3 linked regions of the Homo sapiens genome follow. The protein of the gene in region 1 purifies or fractionates together with the protein of each later gene. This does not show direct contact. Each region holds a gene or a part of one and is shown in the gene's direction. Other genes may lie near its edges.

Region 1 (8,955 bases):
CTCCGTCTCAAAAAAAAAAAAAGTGGCTGTAAACAGGACCTTAGTGCACACACAGGGAGCTTGAGGGATCGTGGGAGGTTATGGCGTGGGTTGGAAGTAGCAAAGAACTTAAACACCATGAAAAAAAAATTTTTTTTTTGAAATGGAGTCTTGCTCTGTTGTCCAGACTGGAGTGCAGTGATGTGATCTCTGCTCACTGCAACCTCCACCTCCCGGTTCAAGCAATTCTGCCTCAGCCTTCCAAAACGCTGGGATTACAGGCGCTTGCCACCACACCCAGCTAATTTTTTGTATTTTTAGTAGCGATTTAGAGAGTAGTTTCACCGTGTTGACCAGGCTGGTCTTGAACTCCGTGACCTCAGGTTAACCATCCACCTCGGCCTCCCAAAGTGCTGGGATTACAGGCATGAGCCACCACACCCAGCCAACACCATGAAAATTTCAAATGAAACAGGACGGCCAGTGAAAAGTCAAGGTGCTGGACTCCTTGAGTCCAGCTGCCTGATTCTGCCCAGGGTTTGCCACCAGTGCCAGTGTTTCCTGTACATTCCTTTAGAGATAGCTCATGCATCTAGAAGTATTTGTAAATATATTGATCTGATTGGATATGGTGCCCTTTTGCTCACACAGCCCCTGCCACACTGGCCTCTTCAGTGCACAGGAACTGTGAGCAAATGTATTTCGACACACCAGGCTGGCTCCAACCCCGGATCCTTTACACTTGCTGTTTGCTCGACCTGGAATGTTTGGCCACCAGCTGTCCACAAGCTCACCCCTCACTGCCTTCAGGTCTTCATTTAGCGAGGCCTTCTCTGACCACTCAGCCTTCACCTTCAGCTCCTCCATCTTTGTGCCCCTTCACTCCTTTTGTTTCTTTCTCTTTTTTCAATTTTTATTTATTTTTTTAGTTTTTGGAGATGGAGTCTCTCTGTCACCAGGCTGGAGTGCAGTGGCGCAATCTCAGCTCACTGCAACCTCAGACTCCCTGGTTCAAGCGATTCTTCTGCCTCAGCCTCCCAAGTAGCTGGGATTACAGGCACGCGCCACCACGCCCAGCTAATTTTTGTATTTTTAGTAGAGACGGGGTTTCACCATGTTGGCCAGGATGGTCTCCATCTCCTGACTTTGTGATCCACCCAGCTCGGCTTCCCAAAGTGCTGGGATTACAGGTGTGAGCCACCACACCTGGCCTTGTTTCTTAAGCACTTACCGCTAACATGCCAAATGTTATCCTTCATCATTGCACCACTGGAATGTAATTTCCATGCGGGCAGATTTGGAAATATATATTTAATTCCCCTTTTCAGCTTTTTTTTTTTTTTTGAGATAAGGTCTTACTCTGTCACCTAGGCTGGCATGTAGTGGCGTAATCTCAGTTTACTGCAGCCTCCGCCGCCCAGACTCAAGCCATCCTCCTACCTCAGCCTCCCAAGTAGCTAGGACCACAGGCATAGACCACCATACTCAGCTAGTTTTTTGTTTGTTTGTTTGTTTTTGATAGAGACGGGGTTTCACCATGTTGCCCAGGCTGGTCTCAACTCCTGAGCTCAGGTGATCTGCCCGCCTTAGCCTCCCAAAGTGCTGGGATTACAGGCCTGAGCCACCGCACGCCAGCCTGCATTTTTTCCAAATGTTCTAATCTTTCTCATTTTATTATTTTTTTTTTTTTAATTTTTTTTTTGACACAAGACCTCACTCTGTCACCCAGCCTGGAGTGCAGTGGCCTGATCACAGCTTACTGCAGCCTTGAACTCCCAGGCTCAAGAGATCCTCCCACCCCAGCCTCTCAAGTAGATGGGACTACAGGCATATGCCACCACACCCAGCTAATTTTTGTATTCTTTTGTAGAGATGGAGTTTGCCCATATTGCCCAGGCTGATCTCCAACTCCTGGGCTCAAGTGATCCTCCCGCTTCAGCCTCCCAAGGTGCTGGGATTACAGGCATGAGCCACCACACCCAGCCCAGCTGTTAATCTTATTGATGATTAATTATACGTGATGGGTCACTTGTCAGTTGCTGCTTTCAAGGTTCTCTTTTTATCGTTCAATAATTTGATTATGATATGTCTGGTGATGGATATCTTTGAGTTTATCCTATTTGAAGATTATTGAGCTTCTTGGCTCTAGATTGATGGTTTTTTTCATCAAATTTTGGGAGTTTTCAGCCATTCTTTCTTCATATATTCTTTTTTACCCCTTTCTTTTTGTCCTCTCCTTCTGGGATTCCCATTATTTGATGATGTCTCACAGGTCTCTGAAGTTCTGTTCACTTATCTTCGTGCTTTTTTCTTTCTGTTCCTTAGACTTGATCATCTCAACTGATCTATACTCACGTTCACCGATCTTTTCTTCTGCCTACTCAAATCTGTTGTTGAACCCTCTATTCCTCTATTGAATTTTTTCTTTTTTTTTTTTTTTGAGACGGAGTCTCGCTCTGTCGCCCAAGCTGGAGTGCAGTGGCGCGATCTCGGCTCACCGCAACCTCCACTTCCCGAGTTCAAGTGATTATCCTGCCTCAGCCTCCTGAGTAGCTGGTACTACAGGCCCATACCACCATGCCTGATTAATTTTGTGTATTTTTAGTAGAGACAGGGTTTCACCATGTTAGCCAGGATGGCCTCGATCTCCTGACCTCGTGATCTGTCCACCTCGGCCTCCCAAAGTGCTGGGATTACAGGCATGAGCCACCACGCCTGGCCCATTTGAATTTTTTCATTTTAGTTACTGTACTTTTCAAGTCCCAAGTTTCTGTTTAGTTCTTTTAAAATAATTTCTGCTTTTAGGCCAGGCATGGTGGCTCACACCTGTAATCCCAGCACTTTGGGAGGCCAAAGTGGGAGGTTCACTTGAGGTCAGGAGTTCAAGACTAGCCTGGCCAACACTCCATCTCAAAAAAAAAGACAGTATTCTTTAGCATTAGTTCCGCTAATGATTGGACAAAGATTTCCTTAGCCTCCAAAAACCAATAATCTCCTAGCCTTTGCTGAGGCATGGTGGGCCATGCTTTCGACATTCAGCCAGGCAATTGACAACTCTGCCTTCGCCACTACTTCTCCCAGGAAGGCACACATCCTCAAGGTCAGCCCAATGTAAGAAGACTGGGTTCTCATCTCTGGTCTTTCTTGAGCCTGCATATACTCCTGGGCATGCACACAACCCTATGCATGCATGTGACCTTCTAGATTTCCAAGAATATTTTGGAGTTTTTCAAAGCCTTCTCATTCCCCAGCTTTATCTTTTAAACTGTTTCATTAGCCTATTATTGGCCTCAACTGTTATTCATTGCTTAGGCAGCTGCCTAGTTAAACAATTGCATGCAATTGTGTTTCACAAATGCCCCTGGGGAAATAATTTTGACGATGTATGAGCTCTAAGTTAGGTCAAATACAGACAACATTGCAAGTAGGGGCTTCCAGGGAACCATAAGACGAATCAAATAATTCTGACTTTCTGGGAGTGAGGCTTTTATGGAGTTTCATCCTCTTCTGCCCCGTTTGGTGTATGCCAGGCTGCTAGTTTCCACTGAGAATGCTGGCAGTTAATATTCAAGGCTACCATGGAGCTGGAATGGGGGAATGGAACTAGGCCAATTAAAAATGTCACAAAGTATAAAAATTAGCCGGGCGTGGTGGCGGGCGCCTGTAATCCTAGCTACTCGGGAGGCTGAGGCAGGAGAATTGCTTGAACCTGGGAGGCAGAGGTTGCAGTGAACTGAGATCGTGCCACTGCATTCCAGCCTGGGCGACAGTGAGACTCTGTCTCAAGAAAACAAAAATAAAAATAAATTTTAAAAAAGTCATAAAGTTCACTGCTCTTACTAAGATTCAGCTGCTTTTCTTGAATAAACACTTTACAGATTTTTGTTGTTGTTGTGGAGACAGAGTCTCACTCTGTCACCCAGGCTGGAGAGCAATGGCACGACCTCAGCTCACTGCAACCTCTGCCTTCGAGGTTCAAGCGATTAGCTCCTGCCTCAGCCTCCTGAGTAGCTGGGATTACAGGCACTTGCCACCACGACTGGCTAATTTTGTATTTTTAGTAGAGATAGGGTTTCACCATGTTAGTCAGCCTGACCTCAGGTGATCCCCCCACCCTGGCCTCCCAAAGTGCTGGGATTACAGGCGTGAGCCACCACGACTGGCCAAAAAAACTATTTTAAAATCTAAAGTGGGTTGACTAAAACCAAATTAACCATTTTAATCGGAAAACATCTCATGTATCTTATTACCAAACCAGTGCCTTGACGATGGGATTTTCAGTGTCATTTGCCAAATTCGCAGGCACCGCAGTGGGGAGCCACTGCTCCCACAGCAGAGGCAATACACGGCCTAGCCTTGGGGTTGAGAAGTTCTGGGGACGGTGTCGGGGGCCCTGGGCCACCATTTTTGCATGGAGCCAGCCCTGCGCTGCGAGGGCGTGGCATCGGAGAGACCGTGGCCTCGTGGGCAGCATCGGCGGCCCCTGGGGACACGCGCTGGCTCAGTCCCCACCTCCGCCAGGGAAGCGGTCTGATGATACCCATTTCGCAGATGGGCAAATCCACAAGCCAAGTCGTGCCGCCCAGAAGAGGCAGAACCGGGATTTGAACCTAGGTTTCTCATTCTGCACCTGAAGAAATAAATGTCTGGTCCATGCGTGTGTTGGGGGGCGACGGGGACTTTTCTTCAACCAAGCCCGGTGTGCCCCCTCTCATTTTCTAGCACGTTCTTCTCCCCCATCTTTGCACTTATCTCAGACTCCCCTCACACACCTATCCTGGGTGCCATCCTTTCCCTCAGCCCACCGCCCATGTAGTCAGCCTCCTAAGCGCCCCTTCCACCTGTCCCCTCATCTCCCCACTGCTCTGCCTCGGTCCAGCCCTGGCCTTGGCAGGGGTCCCTGCCTGGGCCTCCCCACGGGCTCCCGGCCTCACAGAGGAGCAGCCACCTGTGCAAGGTCACACAGCAGGAGAGACACTTCTGGGATTCAGGACCCACCTGTGGGTCCGAAGTGGATTTTTTGTTTGTTTGGTTTTGGAGACAGGGCCTGGCTCTGTCACTCAAGCTGGAGTGCAATGGCACGATCTTGGCTCACTGCAACCTCTGTCCCCAGGTTCAGCCATCCTCCCACCTCAGCCTCCCAAGTAGCTGGGACCACAGGCATGAGCCTGGCTAATTATTTTTGTATTTTTTATAGAAACGGGGTTTCACTATGTCACCCAGTCTGGTCTCAAACTACTGAGCTCAAGCGATCCGCCTACCTCAGTTTCCCAAAGTGCTGGGATTACAGGCCTGAGCTACCACGCCCCGCCCTGATTTGGATCTTGCTCCTATTCCCAGGAAGGCCCATGTCCTAGCAAGAGAGACACCAGGTGGTGCGCACGCCCCTCCACCTCCAACTCCTCCACCGCCAACAAAGCCTGGGACCCAGAGGCCATGGGTCCTACACAATCTGGTATTTCAGGTCTATAAATCATGGGGGTGGCAGGGAGCCCATCAAAGCTGTTCATCCAGCCTGGTCTGCCGGCTCAGCCTCTTGTCCACCCCACTGCCGTGCCCCAAAACACACACACACACACACACACCCTCCCTCCTTCCTGGGAGACTAGCCCAAGGAGGGGCCTGGGCGTATATAGGGAGCCACGGTGGGTGGGGCTGGCCAGAGAGGCTGCAGACAGAGAAGGTGAGGAGGGGGCCCTGGGAGTCTGGGTATGGCATGAGGGGTCTGAGGCTCAGGGAGGGGCAGTGCCAAGTTCAGGCCAGTGACTGCCCCACCGGAGCCCGGGTGTCCTCTTGTGCAAAATGCCTCCCCACCAGGGCTGTGGGTACATCAGTACCAGCCTGGGCCCCGCAGAGAGCTGGAGCAACCCCTCGAAGCCAGGGTGTGGCTCAGAGATGGGGGGTCCGGCTGGCCCTTTACGCTCCTGGCCTCATCCCTGCTCATGTGTCCCAGGATGATGGCGTCTGCGGCAGCAGCGGAGGCCGAGAAGGGATCTCCAGTTGTGGTGGGCCTGCTAGTTGTGGGCAATATCATTATTCTGGTGAGACTCGCCCCAGTGCTGGGAGCCGAGTGGTTGTGTGGTGGGGAGGGGACAGTCCTGAGCTCGGGGTGGGGGATGAGGGTCCAGAACTGTCTCTCGGGCAGACTCAGTGGTCAGCACAGCCTGGGTTGAAATCCCAGCTCTGCCTCTCCCCAGCTCTGTGACCTTAGCAAGCGACTGTCCCTCTCTGTGCCTTCTTTCCTCATCTATAGACTGTGTCCTCATTGTGTGGGCTGTTGTCATGTGGATTAATCCATGTGTGGCCCTCAGCTCAGAGAAAGTGCCCGACCAATGCTGGCTATCACCATCAGCATCACTATGGATATAAAGTGACAGCCTGGTGCACAGGAGGCCACAAGAAGGAAAAACAACAGTGTCTTTCAATTAACATTGGGTTTTGGTTTTGTGTTTTTTGTTTTGTTTTGTTTTGTTTTGTTTTGTTTTGTTTTGTTTTTGAGACGGAGTCTCACTCTGTTGCCCAGGCTGGAGTGCAGTGGCTGATCTCAGCTAACTGCAACCTCTAACTCCCGGGCTCAAGTGATTCTCCTGCCTCAGCCTCCAGAATAGCTGGGATTACAGGCGCACACCACCACGCCCGGCTAATTTTTTTTTTTTCAGACAGATTCTCCCTTTGTCACCCAGGCTGAAGTGCAGTGGCGAGATCTCGGCTCACTGCATCCTCCACCTCCTGGGCTCCAGCAATTCTCCTGCCTCAGCTTCCCGAGCAGCTGGGATTACAGGCACATGCTACCACACCCGGCTACTTTTTGTATTTTTAGAAGAGATGGGGTTTCACCATGTTGGCCAGGCTGGTCTTGAACTCCTGACCTGAGGTGATCTGCCCACCTCAGCCTCCCAAAGTGTTGGGATTACAGGTGTAAGCCACCGCGACTGGCCGTGTGTTTGTTTTAGAGACAGGGTCTCACTCTGTTGACCAGGCTGCAGTGCAGTGGTGTGATGCTTGCTCACTGCAGCCTCCAACTCCTGGGCTCAACTGATCCTCCTGCCTCAGCCTCCCAAGTAGCTGGGACTACAGGTGCACATCACCACATCTAGCTAATTTTTTTATTTTTTGTAGAGACGGGGTCTCACTATTGCCCAGGCTAGTCTCAAACTCCTGGGCTCAAGCAATCCTCCCGCCTCGGCCTCCCACAATGCTGGGACTGCAGGTGTGAGCCACCTTGCCTGGCCCATTTGTAATGTTTATGGCCATGGCCATGTTCCCCTCCTCGGGGAATAACAGCACTGTCAAGGGAGGGCAGATGGACCAAGCATCTCCTCTGTGCCAGTCCACTGCTCCAGCCTTTCCACGTGGCATCCCCTTTTATCCCCGAAGAAACTGGCAGCTGGGGCGTGGGGGTCGGTTGTCTGGCTGGGCTGTCTCTTCTCTCCTGGCCTCTGCTCACCCTCATCGCTGCTCATGGAAGGCGAGGTCTTTGCCCACTTTACTGAGAGGGCAGTGGAGGCTCCAAATGGGGAGGGAACTTGCTCGTGGAGATGCCTGGTGCCAGGGCTGCTGGCCCCGAGCAGACCTTCCTAACCCACCGCTCTGTCCAGCTGTCAGGCCTGTCCCTGTTTGCTGAGACCATATGGGTGACAGCCGACCAGTACCGTGTATACCCACTGATGGGAGTCTCAGGCAAGGATGACGTCTTCGCTGGTGCCTGGATTGCCATCTTCTGCGGCTTCTCCTTCTTCATGGTAGCCAGTTTTGGTGTGGGTGCCGCACTCTGCCGCCGCCGGTCCATGGTCCTCACGGTGAGACTCCAGGGGTTGGGGGATGGGGACACTGAAAACGGAGTTCAGCATCACTGAGTCATAGTAGCAGGTGCAGCCCCAGCCACTAGTGTGAGTTCCCCATGGTGTCACACTCAGGGATCCCAGGCATCATCTCATTCAGTCTTCCCACAGCCCAATAACCCAGGCTTGAGTAGCAGAGCTGGGATTTTTTCTTTTTTTTTTTTTTGGTAAAGATGGGGGTCTCACTATGTTGCCCAGGCTGGTCTCAAACTCCTGGCTCAAATGATTCTCCTGCCTCAGCCTCCCAAAGTGCTGGGATTACAGGCTTGAGCCCCTCTACCTGCACCCAGTGCAGGGCTAGAATTTGAACCCCTGCTAGCTGCTTTCCAGAGTCCATGCTCATGAACTCTGCCAATAATAGCACAGCTACCATTTAATAATGGTTTACTACAAGCCACGAGCTGTTCTAAATGGTTTACTGGATTAGTTCATTTATTCCTCATAGTCCACCAAGAGATACTGTCATCATCATGACCCTGTTTGATGAAGATTGAAACTGAGGCTCAGAGAAGTGAAGTCACTTATCCAGGGTCACACATTGAGACAATGGCAGAGCCAGTTTCAACCTGAGCAGATCGGCTCTTGAGGCTGTGCTCTTAATCTCTGCCCACAAGAATAACCCATACTTCCCAAGTGTCTCTCATGCACCTGACACTAGGGTAAGCAGTTTAGAAAATGAGCTTCGTGGCCAGGCGCAGTGGCTCATGCCTGTAATCCCAGCACGTGGGGAGGCTGAGGCGGACAGATCATTTGAGGTCGGGAGTCCAAGACCAGACTGGCCAACATGGCGAAATCCCATCTCTAAAAAAAAAAAAAAAAAAAAAATTAGCCACGCATGGTGGCAGGCACCTGTAATCCCCGCTACTCAGGAGGCTGGGGCGGAAGAATCACTAGAACCCGGGAGGCAGAGGTTGCAGTGAGCCAAGATCACACCACTGCATTCCAGCCTGGATGACAAAGCGAGACTCCATCTCAAAAAAAAGGAAAGAAAATGAGCTTCCTCAATCTTGCCAGAAGCCCTTCACAGCTAGTGCTTTTCAACCCATTTACCAGATGAGGAAACTGAGGCTCAAAGAGGCTAACAGCCTCTCCCAGGTGACCAGGAGAGCAGGGATTCCAATTCACGGCCCCAATG
Region 2 (8,212 bases), on another chromosome or scaffold:
TACAGGGAGGTGGGAGAGCCCGTGGAAGGTCTCATGGTGCCCAGCTGCTTCTGTTTGTCTGAGTGGGGCCAGAAGCAATGCTGCACCTGCGAGAGCTCCCCTGCTGAGACTCCCTGTTCTCTTATCTCCCGAGCGACAGGGGTGGCTTTTTATCTCCTGGGTGTGCTTCTGCTTCTTTGCTTGCAAGGCTTCTCAGAATGGGGCCCCATGAAGCCTGAGGGACTCTCTCCTGATAACACCCTGTGCCACCTTTTTCATTCTGGATCCGCACCCAGGAGCCCGTGGACAAGGCCCACTGCCTGAGCCTGAACTAGGAGCACCTCCTAGGGACTGCCCAGGCTTGCTCTGCTCTGACCCTTCTGCTGGCCAGTCTGGGCACCTGGTGAGTGCCCAGAAAGGGAGGGAAGGGAAGCTGTCCTTTCACCCCAAACAGCAAGGCCTGGGCCCAGCTAGGCCTGAGTGTGGGGAATGTGTCAGTGCACATCTGCCTGGCTTCCCATGCCACCCAATGGGAAAGCTGTTTAATCTGCTGGTGCCAGGGGGTCTCCCCCTACACAAATGGGGAGCAGGAGAGGGACGCTGAGGCAGAAGGATAGGTGCTTTGGGATCCACCCCTCCAATCTTCTTTTCAAGGTCACTCTTAGAAAGGGGAAGCGGACAGGAGCCTGTGACAGAGAGGAACTAAGGGAGGACTAGGTGACCCTGGGGTCGGGAGGGGGGAGGGGGAAGGGCTGTGCCCCCACATCCATTATGAAATATTTTCTTGGAAAACCGGCCAGCAACTAGGAAGCCCCTGGGCAGTGGCTGGAAAGAAAGGTTAAGGTGCCAACAGCAGAGAGACTGGAATCTGGGTTGCCTTCAGGAGAGGACAGCCCCACTCTAGCCATGAATCCAGGGGCTCCCCAGGGAGGGTGGAGAGACCAGACTTGCAGAGAGGGGCCTGGGGAGCCTCTGGTTTGACCTCAGTCATCATCGATGTTGTCGCAGCTGCTGCAGATCTGCCTGTTCCGTGTCCTTCCTCCTCCTCCCCCGACCTCTTTGCTGTGTCTCCTCCATTTGTCTCCCTCCTTCCCTTGTCATCACTGTCCCTGACCCCTCTCGTCCTCTTGCCTGCCTTCTTTGACTGTCTTTCCCTCCCTCCCATCATCTTTCCTCCTCCTTCCCTCCTGCTCTCCACCCTCCTGTTTCCCAGCTTATAAACTGCTTCGGCTGCTGGATAAAAATAGCGGTGGCAGCGGCCAGGCCGGGAGCCAGGTAGAGTCTGAGCAGGCAGGGGGGCCGCGCAGGACTGGCCTGCTGGGCCAGGGGGCTGGGTGGGGGTCAAGTTGAGTCGTCCTGAGGGGCAGGGTGCAGAGGGGGTCTTACTGGACTCCTCCACTGGCCTGTTCTGTCAGCCCTGCCCCCTCTCCCCCTAAGAGCCTGAGGAGGCCTATGGCAGGGCCAAGACAGGGCCTCACACTGTTCCTGCCCCCAGCAGGCCCCTGAGGGAGGGAGCTGTCAGCCAGGGAAAACCGAGAACACCATCACCATGACAACCAGTCACCAGCCTCAGGACAGGTAAGGGGTAAGGGGCTGGGCTGTGGATCCAGGGAATGGGTTTTCAGGGAGCTGGGTGTGGTGTCCTTTGGAATTGGGGGTTGCCATTGCTGGCTGGCCTTCCAGCCAGGTAGCTATGAGTCAGGTCTGCATCAGGGGTGGGGACCCCGTGTGCCTTGGCTGGGTGCTGGCTGGGGTGTCTGCGGGAAGGGCAGGGTGCGTGGGCAGCAGTCCTTCCCTGGCCTGTCTGTGTTTCCACTGTTGCTCTCCAGCCAGTTAGCGGCTTTCGGCTCCTCCCGCCACCACTGTGGGGAGATACTTGGCTGCACCCCTCCTTCCAATGCACATCTGGCAGAACTGCCCTGGGGCCTCTGCCTTAGATGACCTGGCCCACCCTGGTTCTTGATCTGATCTTCCTCTCAATTCCCTGCCTCTGGAGCCTGTGAACTCCCAGTCAAGTTAGACTTGCAGTTATGACTGTGAATATGTATTTTGGAAGAAGAGGCTGTAGCTTAATTCAATTTCTCAAAGGGATCTGGGACCCAAGAAGGCTGAGGAAGTGATCCCTGAGATCCAAAGCTCCTTCAAAGCGTCAGGCTCTGTCCTGCCCTCCAACTCAGGCCCCAGAAACCCATCACGTCTGCCCTACCCACCCCATCTCCCTCCTGTGCCAAAGGCTATGAAACTAGGCCACTTTTGCCTGTGGGGGCTTTGAGCATGTAGCTTAATCTCTCTGGGACTGTTTTTCCACCTGTAAAATAAGCTAAAAGTATCTACTTCCCAGGAAGTGGATCTAGAAGTAAGGGAATTTAAGGAGGCATGGCAATAAGTCCAGGCCCCAGGTTGCTTCCCTGCCTCCTGTGCTCCATTCCCAGGCTGCCTGCCCATTCTGTCCCCACCTCCGCTCTCCTGTGGGCAGTTCCCTGAAGGCCTCGCCGGCTCCATTTGCCTTATTGCACAGCTCAGTCATTTCCCAGCGTACTCCCCCCAACCCCGATCCTCTGTCCTATGTGACTTTGGGAGTTTTTCCTTCTGCTCTGGGCCTCCGAACCAAGCCTTTAGCTTCTCCAAGGGAAGCATGTATGTGAGGGGGTTGGGGGGGCTGCAGTTGCATTAACTCGGACCTGCTCACGTGGTGTGCTCACCACGCCATCCCTGTATGAGGCCTGCCAGCGGTCCAGGCTCCTGCACTCTGGCCAGGCCTGTCTTCTCACTGCCTTGGGCTTTATCCCTGCCATCTCTGAAGAGAGCTGGTGTTGGCTCTGGGGAGGGTGTGCAAACCCAACTGGAGATCTACATGGGCCGGGCTGGGGTTACTCAGCTTTCAGGCAAGGCCTATCTGGGAGAAGCTGGCGTGACCCGGAAGGGCCTTGAGGTATAGGGCTTGGGGCATTGCCCTGGCCAAAGGTGGACAGTCCTTATTTACACCCTGAGGCCCAGATGGCCTCCAGTGGCCCCATACCTCCTGGCCTGCCCTGGGTGGTATGAACTACAAAGTTCTATTTGGCCAGGAAGAAAATGGCTCTAAGGCCCTCTCTTCACAGCGGCCCTGAGGCACCCTGCCCACCTGCCCTGTAGGTCCAGAATAGTATGGGAGTTTCTTAACTTCAGAATCCTCTCTGGGGAGTAACACAGTCCCTGACCAGACAGCATAATTACTTCCAGCCTGCCTGGTGGGAGTGGAAGACACTTGCTGCTTGCTTTCTCACTCATCCACCCACCCCCTGCCCTTCGGCAGGATTTCCAAAACCATCTCCGGATGTGTGGGTCACACTGGTTCCCAGCCTGCAGAGTCCCCCGAGCCTTCCAGGGCTGATAACCATGGTCCTGTCAGCCATGCCATTCAGTCCTATGACCCTGACCCCATCCCCACCCCAAATTCCAACGAGCAATGTACCCTTTTCTCCCCCCACACCCATAAGAGGACACATGCAAACGGACACAAACACAGACGCCCTGTGCCCTGGGACCTAGAGAGACTGACAACGGACAGGGGCTTTCCTGGGGCTCATTGTGGAGTGGGGCAGGATGGTGCGTCATTTGGCCCATCTTTCCTCCTCCATTGCAGATACAAAGCTGTCTGGCTTATCTTCTTCATGCTGGGTCTGGGAACGCTGCTCCCGTGGAATTTTTTCATGACGGCCACTCAGGTGAGGCTGGAGGGACTGGGCTCCATGGGGCAGTGCCCACTGTGCTTGCAGGATCTGACTCTGTGCTGGTAGGCACAGGGAAAGAGATTTCAACACTCCTCTCTGCAACCCCTGCAGTATTTCACAAACCGCCTGGACATGTCCCAGAATGTGTCCTTGGTCACTGCTGAACTGAGCAAGGACGCCCAGGCGTCAGCCGCCCCTGCAGCACCCTTGCCTGAGCGGAACTCTCTCAGTGCCATCTTCAACAATGTCATGACCCTATGTGCCATGCTGCCCCTGCTGTTATTCACCTACCTCAACTCCTTCCTGCATCAGAGGTGAGTGCCCACCCCCTCCCCAGCCCCCAGCCTGACCCTCACTGTGTCCTGCACCCCCTTGGCTGAGCCCCAGCTTTGCCCACTTGTCTCTGCCACCCTTGGCCTCTCCCGGCAGGATCCCCCAGTCCGTACGGATCCTGGGCAGCCTGGTGGCCATCCTGCTGGTGTTTCTGATCACTGCCATCCTGGTGAAGGTGCAGCTGGATGCTCTGCCCTTCTTTGTCATCACCATGATCAAGATCGTGCTCATTAATTGTAAGCTGGGCCAGGAGGGGGCCTATGGGAGGAGGCATGCCCAACTACCCCCACTCTTTTTTCAGACCCAGCGTTAGCCAGAGAGAAGCCCAGCCTCCGCCTGGAGGGAGTGGATGCTGTGAGCAGCTGGGATTCAGAGGCCTGAGTGGGCCTGGACCAGGGCTGGGAGGGGGCAGAGAGAAGGGCAGCTCAGCCTCAAGGCTCACCAAGAGTAAAGTAGGAATGACAGGGATCTGTCTTCTTGGGCACCCCCAACCACCAGCCCTAGCTCCCCTGCTCATGCCCGCCCTGTTTCCCCAGCATTTGGTGCCATCCTGCAGGGCAGCCTGTTTGGTCTGGCTGGCCTTCTGCCTGCCAGCTACACGGCCCCCATCATGAGTGGCCAGGGCCTAGCAGGCTTCTTTGCCTCCGTGGCCATGATCTGCGCTATTGCCAGTAAGTCCGGCTATCTACCTGCCCAGTGCCCTGGTGTGGTGGGGAGAGGGGATGGGGCCTGTCTCTGATCACTGACACCACCCCAGGTGGCTCGGAGCTATCAGAAAGTGCCTTCGGCTACTTTATCACAGCCTGTGCTGTTATCATTTTGACCATCATCTGTTACCTGGGCCTGCCCCGCCTGGTGAGTAAATGGAGGGAGCTGGGGTTTGGGGTATAGGGGTCTGGGGTTCCAGACCACGGGTGTTCTGAGGACAAAACCTGAAGGAGGCCGGGATTCTGGAGATTCTGCCTCTAAATCCACCTCCCCCGTCTCCCTTACTTGATAGGAATTCTACCGCTACTACCAGCAGCTCAAGCTTGAAGGACCCGGGGAGCAGGAGACCAAGTTGGACCTCATTAGCAAAGGTCCGAAGAGCCTGAGGAAGCTGGGGTGGAGGATGGTATACCAGGCGGGGGATAGCATGAGCAAAGAGAACAAAGATGAGTGCCCTGTGTTAGCTAGCAGCCCTGAGCCAGAGGAGGACTGAAGGACTACAGCAGGGAGAGGGGGACAATAGGAAATAAGGGCCGGCAATGATAAAATGGGGGCAGATCCTGGATGACCTTGAATGCCTGAGGTGTTTGGACTAAAGGCAGTGGGAAGCAATTTCAGATTCTTGAGTGAGGAGTAACATGACCTGAGGCTCCTGGGAGAGGCCAGGCCCCCGGGTCTTGAGTTGTAGGGATTTGGAGGCGAGGTCTGGGTTAGGGTTAGAGTACGGCTGGGACTGGTTAAGGAGGCGTCTACTTTCAAGTAATCCCAGCCGTTTTGGGGAATGTTTATGTTGTCTTCTGTTGCTCTGTCTTCCCCACAACTTGGAGATTTCTTCCATCCCGCAGGAGAGGAGCCAAGAGCAGGCAAAGAGGAATCTGGAGTTTCAGTCTCCAACTCTCAGCCCACCAATGAAAGCCACTCTATCAAAGCCATCCTGAAAAATGTACGTAGGGGAGGTTATCCTATCTTCTACCCCTTGTCCTCTTTCTCTCCTCCTTTTGCTCCCTCCCCCTGCCACCCATCTCCTCCCTTTCTGACCTGAGAGTGGTCACTCCTGGATTCTTTTGTGTGTGCGTGCGTGCCCATGCGTGCGTGCCGGGGGTGGGGATTCGTGGTTCCTTTTTTTTGAGACAGAGTTTCACACTTGTTGCCCAGGCTGGAGTGCAATGGTGCAATCTCCACTCGCTGCAACCTCCATCTCCTGGGTTCAAGTGATTCTCCTGCCTCAGCCTCCCAAGTAGCTGAGATTACAGGCATATGCCACCATGCCCGGCTAATTTTTTGTATTTAGTAGAGATGGGGTTTCACCAGGTCAAGCTGGTCTCAAACTCCTGACCTCAGGTGATCCACCCACCTCGGCCTCCCAAAGTGCTGAGATTACAGGCGTGAGCCACCACGCCTGGCCTGGATTCGTGGTTCTTTAATGCACAGCCACCATGAAGACACAGGCATTTGGGTGACTCTACCCCTTCTATCTAGATCTCAGTCCTGGCTTTCTCTGTCTGCTTCATCTTCACTATCACCATTGGGATGTTTCCAGCCGTGACTGTTGAGGTCAAGTCCAGCATCGCAGGCAGCAGCACCTGGGGTGAGGATGCCACAGGTTTCCAGGATGGGAACAGACAGGATCTTGAGTTGGGCTGGAAGTGGGGAAGGGAGGGAGCCTGGGTCACCTTCTCCCCGTTTCCTGGGTCCATTTGCCCTTCCCTGGGCTGGAAGCATCTTCTCCATTTTACTGTTGGGGAAGCTGAGGCCCAGTGAAGGTTAGGCTTGCTATACCTGCCTCTGTGAGCCTGATAACCACCCGTTCATCTCCTCTTCCAGAACGTTACTTCATTCCTGTGTCCTGTTTCTTGACTTTCAATATCTTTGACTGGTTGGGCCGGAGCCTCACAGCTGTATTCATGTGGGTAAGTGGAGGAAGAGGGCCCCAGGCCCCTGTGGGAAGTAAGAGTCCAGCCTGGACCCAGAGAGGGAACCCAAGAAAGTATGGTAGTAAGGGGACCATTTGTTTTAAAGTCGAGGCATAATTTATGTATAGTTAAGTACAAGTCTTAAGTGTACAACTTAATGAATATATGTATATACACATACCTGCCCAGATCGAGATGTAGAATATTTCCAGCACTCCAGAAGGCTCCACCATGCCCCTTTCAAGAGTAACCCCCTAAGGAGAACCAGGCTTTGAGGTTTCAGTTCAGATCCTGAGGGGCCCCAGATGGATCCTTGGGGGCCTGGCTGTGCCCTGGGGTGGCGGCCTGGGCTGAGGCCCTGCCTGGTGCCCACAGCCTGGGAAGGACAGCCGCTGGCTGCCAAGCCTGGTGCTGGCCCGGCTGGTGTTTGTGCCACTGCTGCTGCTGTGCAACATTAAGCCCCGCCGCTACCTGACTGTGGTCTTCGAGCACGATGCCTGGTTCATCTTCTTCATGGCTGCCTTTGCCTTCTCCAACGGCTACCTCGCCAGCCTCTGCATGTGCTTCGGGCCCAAGTGAGTAGGGCTGGCAGGGAACTTGGTGGCATCAGACAGGATCTAGAGTTCCAGTGGGGGACACTCAGTAGAGGGAGGGCAAAAGGAGAGTCCCTGCTCCCAGAGCTGAGAGGAGAGATGGCTCAGGAGGGGCTCCCAGGCTGAGGGGATAGTGACTGTAGTGGAGGGGGGCGCCAAGCTTACTTGGGTGGAGGTGGAGACAGGTTTGCAGGAAGGAGTGAAAGACAACCCCACCATACACGTTCCCTCAAGGAGGAGAAGCCAGGTTGGGGTTAGGCAGCCAGGATGGGTTGATCAACAGAATGAGGTTCGACAGTCAAGTTGCTCCACCCCACCCCTCCTTCCACCCAGAGGCTCTGGGCTGGGGTACAGCCATTCTGAGGTAGCCTTGCCCTTCCTTCCCCGCTTAGGAAAGTGAAGCCAGCTGAGGCAGAGACCGCAGGAGCCATCATGGCCTTCTTCCTGTGTCTGGGTCTGGCACTGGGGGCTGTTTTCTCCTTCCTGTTCCGGGCAATTGTGTGACAAAGGATGGACAGAAGGACTGCCTGCCTCCCTCCCTGTCTGCCTCCTGCCCCTTCCTTCTGCCAGGGGTGATCCTGAGTGGTCTGGCGGTTTTTTCTTCTAACTGACTTCTGCTTTCCACGGCGTGTGCTGGGCCCGGATCTCCAGGCCCTGGGGAGGGAGCCTCTGGACGGACAGTGGGGACATTGTGGGTTTGGGGCTCAGAGTCGAGGGACGGGGTGTAGCCTCGGCATTTGCTTGAGTTTCTCCACTCTTGGCTCTGACTGATCCCTGCTTGTGCAGGCCAGTGGAGGCTCTTGGGCTTGGAGAACACGTGTGTCTCTGTGTATGTGTCTGTGTGTCTGCGTCCGTGTCTGTCAGACTGTCTGCCTGTCCTGGGGTGGCTAGGAGCTGGGTCTGACCGTTGTATGGTTTGACCTGATATACTCCATTCTCCCCTGCGCCTCCTCCTCTGTGTTCTCTCCATGTC
Region 3 (4,099 bases), on another chromosome or scaffold:
GATAAGGACCTAATTAAAATGTGATAAGTGTATACTATTACTTTAAAAGCCTTTACAGTCAGTACTTCAGTTTACAAGGCACTTTCACAGCATCTCGTTTGATCCTCACAGTCACAACATGTGGTAGACAAGGCAGGTGATTTTTATCCCCATTTTACAGATAAGGAAACAGGCTGCGGGTGGGGAGTGAGGGGAGGTAAAGATAGTTAGTTGCCTAAGGTCACACAGCCAGTAAGTAATAGAGCTGGGACTGGAACCCAGGTTTCCTTACTCTCATCTATTGCTCCTCCATATTCCTCACTCAACCATGAAAACATTACTTGAAAGGACTGATGAGGTTAACCAGAGACCTAACTGATATTGTAACTTTCTATTTTAAGGAAGAATTGTGTCTGTATTTGAGTTCTTTGGAGCCTCCAGTCTGCCTGTGTGTTAGACCAGCACAGCAGTGCTGTGTGATGCAGCCTGACCTGTGGCAGGAAAGTAGTGCTTCTGTTTGGAAGTCATGTTCTTTTGCAGCCACACAGGATCCAAATATCAGTACTATTCCTGTAGTCAATCTGGGGTCACATTATAGGTGCCTTATTTCCCTAAGGGTAACTGATCTGAATATCTGCAAATAGGATGAATCTATTTTTCAGAAGTTCCATCTTTCATTTTTCTTTTTTTTTTTGAGACAGAGTCTCATTCTGTCGCCCATGCTGGAGTGCAGTGGCGCGATCTCGGCTCGCTGCAACCTCTGCCTCCCAGGTTGAAGCAATTCTCATGCCTCAGCCACCCGAGTAGCTGGGATTACAGGCATGCGCCATCATGCCCAGCTAATTTATGTATTTTTAGTAGAGTTGGAGTTTCACCATGTTGGCCAGGCTGGTCTTGGACTCCTGACCTCAGGTCATCCACCCGCCTCAGCCTCCCAAAGTGCTGGTATTACAGGCGTGAGCCACCGCACCCAGCCCCATCTTTCATTTTCAAAGAGAAGGGCATTCTAATAGGAACTGGTGCCAAGAGAGAAGAAAAGAAGTGATAACAGAAGAAATGGCTAGTTACAATATTAAAAAGCTCCTCTTTGAGATCTCCTCTGCAGGAATATCAGAGACGGAGTTGAAGCGCTGGAGAGGTAATAGGTCTAGACAGTACAGAACAATAACTGGGGAGTGTGTGAGGATAGACTGGGCTCCCCCTTGCTTGAAAGATCTCTGGCATTTAATTCTCAATTCTTGATTACTATTTTCCAGTGTAAAACTAGCACATATGATCTGACTACAGGACAGAGAATTTTAAGTGAAACATTTGCCTTACTTGCAGTAATAATGTGCTGTTCTTCACAGTAGCTAAGGCCCTCTATGTTTCCCAGAGGTAAATAAGAATCCAGGAATGGAGGTCCATCTGTGATGAATGGCTTTTTTCTAATCAAAGTAGTATAATGCTGTTTTATCTGTTTTGTCATCTTGTTTTTTTTTTTTTTTAAAAAAACAAAACCTTAATTATAATATAGCGCAAAGAAAGGCCAGGACTGATGCAGGGATTCCTTGGAAATATCAGTTCCTATCACTTTTAAAACCTGATTTTGGATCTCTCTGTTCTATGTATGTCTTTAGTGAGAGCACAATACATGGCAGAACGCTGTGCCAAATGTTATAGGTAAGGAATATAGAAATGAATGTTTTTTGTTGTGAAGGTGTTTTCATGTGATATTTTATAAACACATTTTAAAAAATCTCCATCACTTTTTAGTATAGGAAGGATAGCTTTGCCTGGGAAAAACAGTTTCAACACACCTGCTCAGAGTAGCAGTTCTCCCTCAAAAAAGCAGTGTTCAGCCTGCACTGACTGTTCTGCTTGCCAAAAGGAGGAAGCATGCAAGATACTTATTTCTCCATAGATTGTGGAGTATAGAGGGATGTGGGACTACAGATTATTATTTTTTTTCCCCGAGACAGAGTCTTGCTCTGTCGCCCAGGTTGGAACACAATGGCACGACCTCAGCTCACTGCAACCTCTGTCTCCCGGGTTCAAGCAATTCTCCTGCTTCAGCCTCCTGAGTAGCTGGGATTACAGGCACACACCACCACCGCACTCAGCTAATTTTTGTATTTTTAGTAGAGGTGGGGTTTTACCATGTTGGCCAGGCTGGTCTTAAACTCCTGACCTTGTAATCATCCCGCCTCGGCCTCCTAAAGTGCTAGGATTACAGGCATGAGCCACCGCACCCGGCCCAGATAATTTTTAATAGCCTTTGATCATGGGGTGAGTGAGGGAGTAGGTATACTTGGCAAATGCATGGTTCTCTGATTTCTAGCTCTAAAGCAGCCTTATCTGAATCCCCAAATCTTGTGATGCTGAGTACCATTACTGAACCAGTCTGCACGGTAGGCATCTGCTACCAAAATTTACCTCCTACCTGGTAGGTGTCATCTGATAAGAAAGAAGACAGGTTATTTTAATTTTTTGAGATAATCACAGAAAATTGCAGCCCATACTCTTTATTACCGAATTCAAGTTTGGAAATAGACCCTTTGTTTTAAATCATGATGGGTCTTTATCCCAATCATTTATCTGGGTCATTTTTCCAACTTTGGAGTTCTAGGAAAGAACCTTGAAAACCTGATATGATTCTGCAGCATGAGGTCTACGGTGACCATTTGGGCAAAGCTCCAGTGGCAATCATTTATTGTGTTTTGCATTTCCTGGGATTTATTGAAATAAGAATTCACTGTGATTATGTAGTCTTCTGGCTAGTATCAGGCAGCTCTGCTTTTAATTTGGTTAATTTTATTTTCTCTGAAGAGGGAGAAGAGGTACAATTTAATCTTGGCCTCCACAAGCATATTAAAGCTCACGTGTTAATCAGTGCATTCTTATGCTCCTACATTAAATGCCTTGGGTAAATGGATAAATGGACATGTGCCCAGCTTTAATTTTTTTTGCAACAGAAAGATCAGACTTCCGTATGGCATCGTTGGATTTCAGAGGCTTTCTGGTGTATCTGTAAATCTGAATGTTGCCTTCTGCCAGTCTGTATAACCAGGTGATTCATGCTGCAAATGAAATCAGGAAGCAGTAAAGTGTTAAAGCAAGAGTATTGTCCAATTCACTTGTCTTCCTGATCCTTGTACTTTATTTCACGTGTCGGTGTTTACATTACATACTTATATTTCCTGTGAAAGAAAGAGTTAAATAAATTGTAGCAGTTTGATTTTCTTTTTCTTAATGTGACATTTTCTCTTTTGCTTTTAAATCTTTCTTGGAAATTGGAAACTGAAGGAGCTCAAGTCCTTTCTCCCTGACTCCAGCCCTATTCCTCAGTGTGGAGACCTGCCTTCTACAGGCCAAATATCCCAGAATGTTTATTCTGAAAACTTTAGAAGAAGACTTTGGGAAACCCAGTGAGGATTAGTTTTATTTTAACTATGTTAAAACCACGCACAGTAGGAATTAATATATGGGCCAGGCGTAGTGGCTCACGCCTGTTATCACAGCACTGTGGGATGCCGAGACGGGTGGATCATTTGAGGTCAGGAGTTCGAGACCAGCCTGACCAACATGGTGAAACCACGTCTCTACTAAAAATACAAAATAGCTGGGCGTAGTGGCGCATGCCTGTAATCCCAGCTACTTGGGAGGCTGAGGCAGGAGAATCACTTGAACCTGGGAGGTGGAGGTTGCAGTGAGCCAAGATTGCACCATTCCACTCCAGCCTGGGCAACAAGAGTGAGACTCCATCTAAAAAAAAAATAATAAAAAATGAATAAAAATTAAAAGGAATTACTCAATACATGAACATTGTACCTAAAAGAGATGAAGTCCTGGATCCATCTTAAGTTTTTGGAATGAGAATCACTGGACTGTGAGAGTCTAATTTTCTTAGAAATCCTAATCCAGTTATATCTAACACTTAGGTAATTTCCCCCTTTGTTGGGGTTGTCAGAAGGAATAAATTTTTTTTAATTTTTATATTTTAGAAATGGCATGTGTTACATTGTTCAGGCTGGCCTTAAACAACAAACAGTCCTCCTGCCTCAACCTCTTAAGTAGCTAGGACTACAGGCATGCACCACTGCACCCAGCTGGAATAAATTTTTTTTTGTAAATGAATTCC

The links. The genes of interacting proteins can lie anywhere in the genome.
Region 2: the proteins of UPK1A (region 1) and SLC29A1 purify together in Homo sapiens (affinity purification with mass spectrometry; 2 studies listed by BioGRID and IntAct, with this or other methods). This does not show direct contact.
Region 3: the proteins of UPK1A (region 1) and ALG9 purify together in Homo sapiens (affinity purification with mass spectrometry; 2 studies listed by BioGRID and IntAct, with this or other methods). This does not show direct contact.

The regions. Positions count from the first base shown.
Region 1 is NC_000019.10:35,660,877-35,669,831, forward strand, and holds the start of UPK1A (uroplakin-1a), read left to right. Parts: upstream 1-5,640; 5' UTR 5,641-5,662; intron 5,663-5,932; 5' UTR 5,933-5,936; coding exon 5,937-6,020; intron 6,021-7,071; exon of another isoform or gene 7,072-7,577; coding exon 7,578-7,778; exon of another isoform or gene 7,779-7,809; intron 7,810-8,955. UniProt on the Homo sapiens protein: Component of the asymmetric unit membrane (AUM); a highly specialized biomembrane elaborated by terminally differentiated urothelial cells.
Region 2 is NC_000006.12:44,225,786-44,233,997, forward strand, and holds part of SLC29A1 (equilibrative nucleoside transporter 1), read left to right. Parts: intron 1-275; exon of another isoform or gene 276-382; intron 383-1,224; exon of another isoform or gene 1,225-1,254; intron 1,255-1,474; coding exon of another isoform or gene 1,475-1,528; coding exon 1,529-1,557; intron 1,558-3,604; coding exon 3,605-3,686; intron 3,687-3,803; coding exon 3,804-4,006; intron 4,007-4,121; coding exon 4,122-4,261; intron 4,262-4,561; coding exon 4,562-4,696; intron 4,697-4,782; coding exon 4,783-4,880; intron 4,881-5,025; coding exon 5,026-5,104; intron 5,105-5,578; coding exon 5,579-5,676; intron 5,677-6,212; coding exon 6,213-6,321; intron 6,322-6,557; coding exon 6,558-6,643; intron 6,644-7,021; coding exon 7,022-7,221; intron 7,222-7,631; coding exon 7,632-7,743; 3' UTR 7,744-8,212. UniProt on the Homo sapiens protein: Uniporter involved in the facilitative transport of nucleosides and nucleobases, and contributes to maintaining their cellular homeostasis. Functions as a Na(+)-independent transporter.
Region 3 is NC_000011.10:111,781,292-111,785,390, reverse strand, and holds the end of ALG9 (alpha-1,2-mannosyltransferase ALG9), read left to right. Parts: 3' UTR 1-3,196; downstream 3,197-4,099. UniProt on the Homo sapiens protein: Mannosyltransferase that operates in the biosynthetic pathway of dolichol-linked oligosaccharides, the glycan precursors employed in protein asparagine (N)-glycosylation.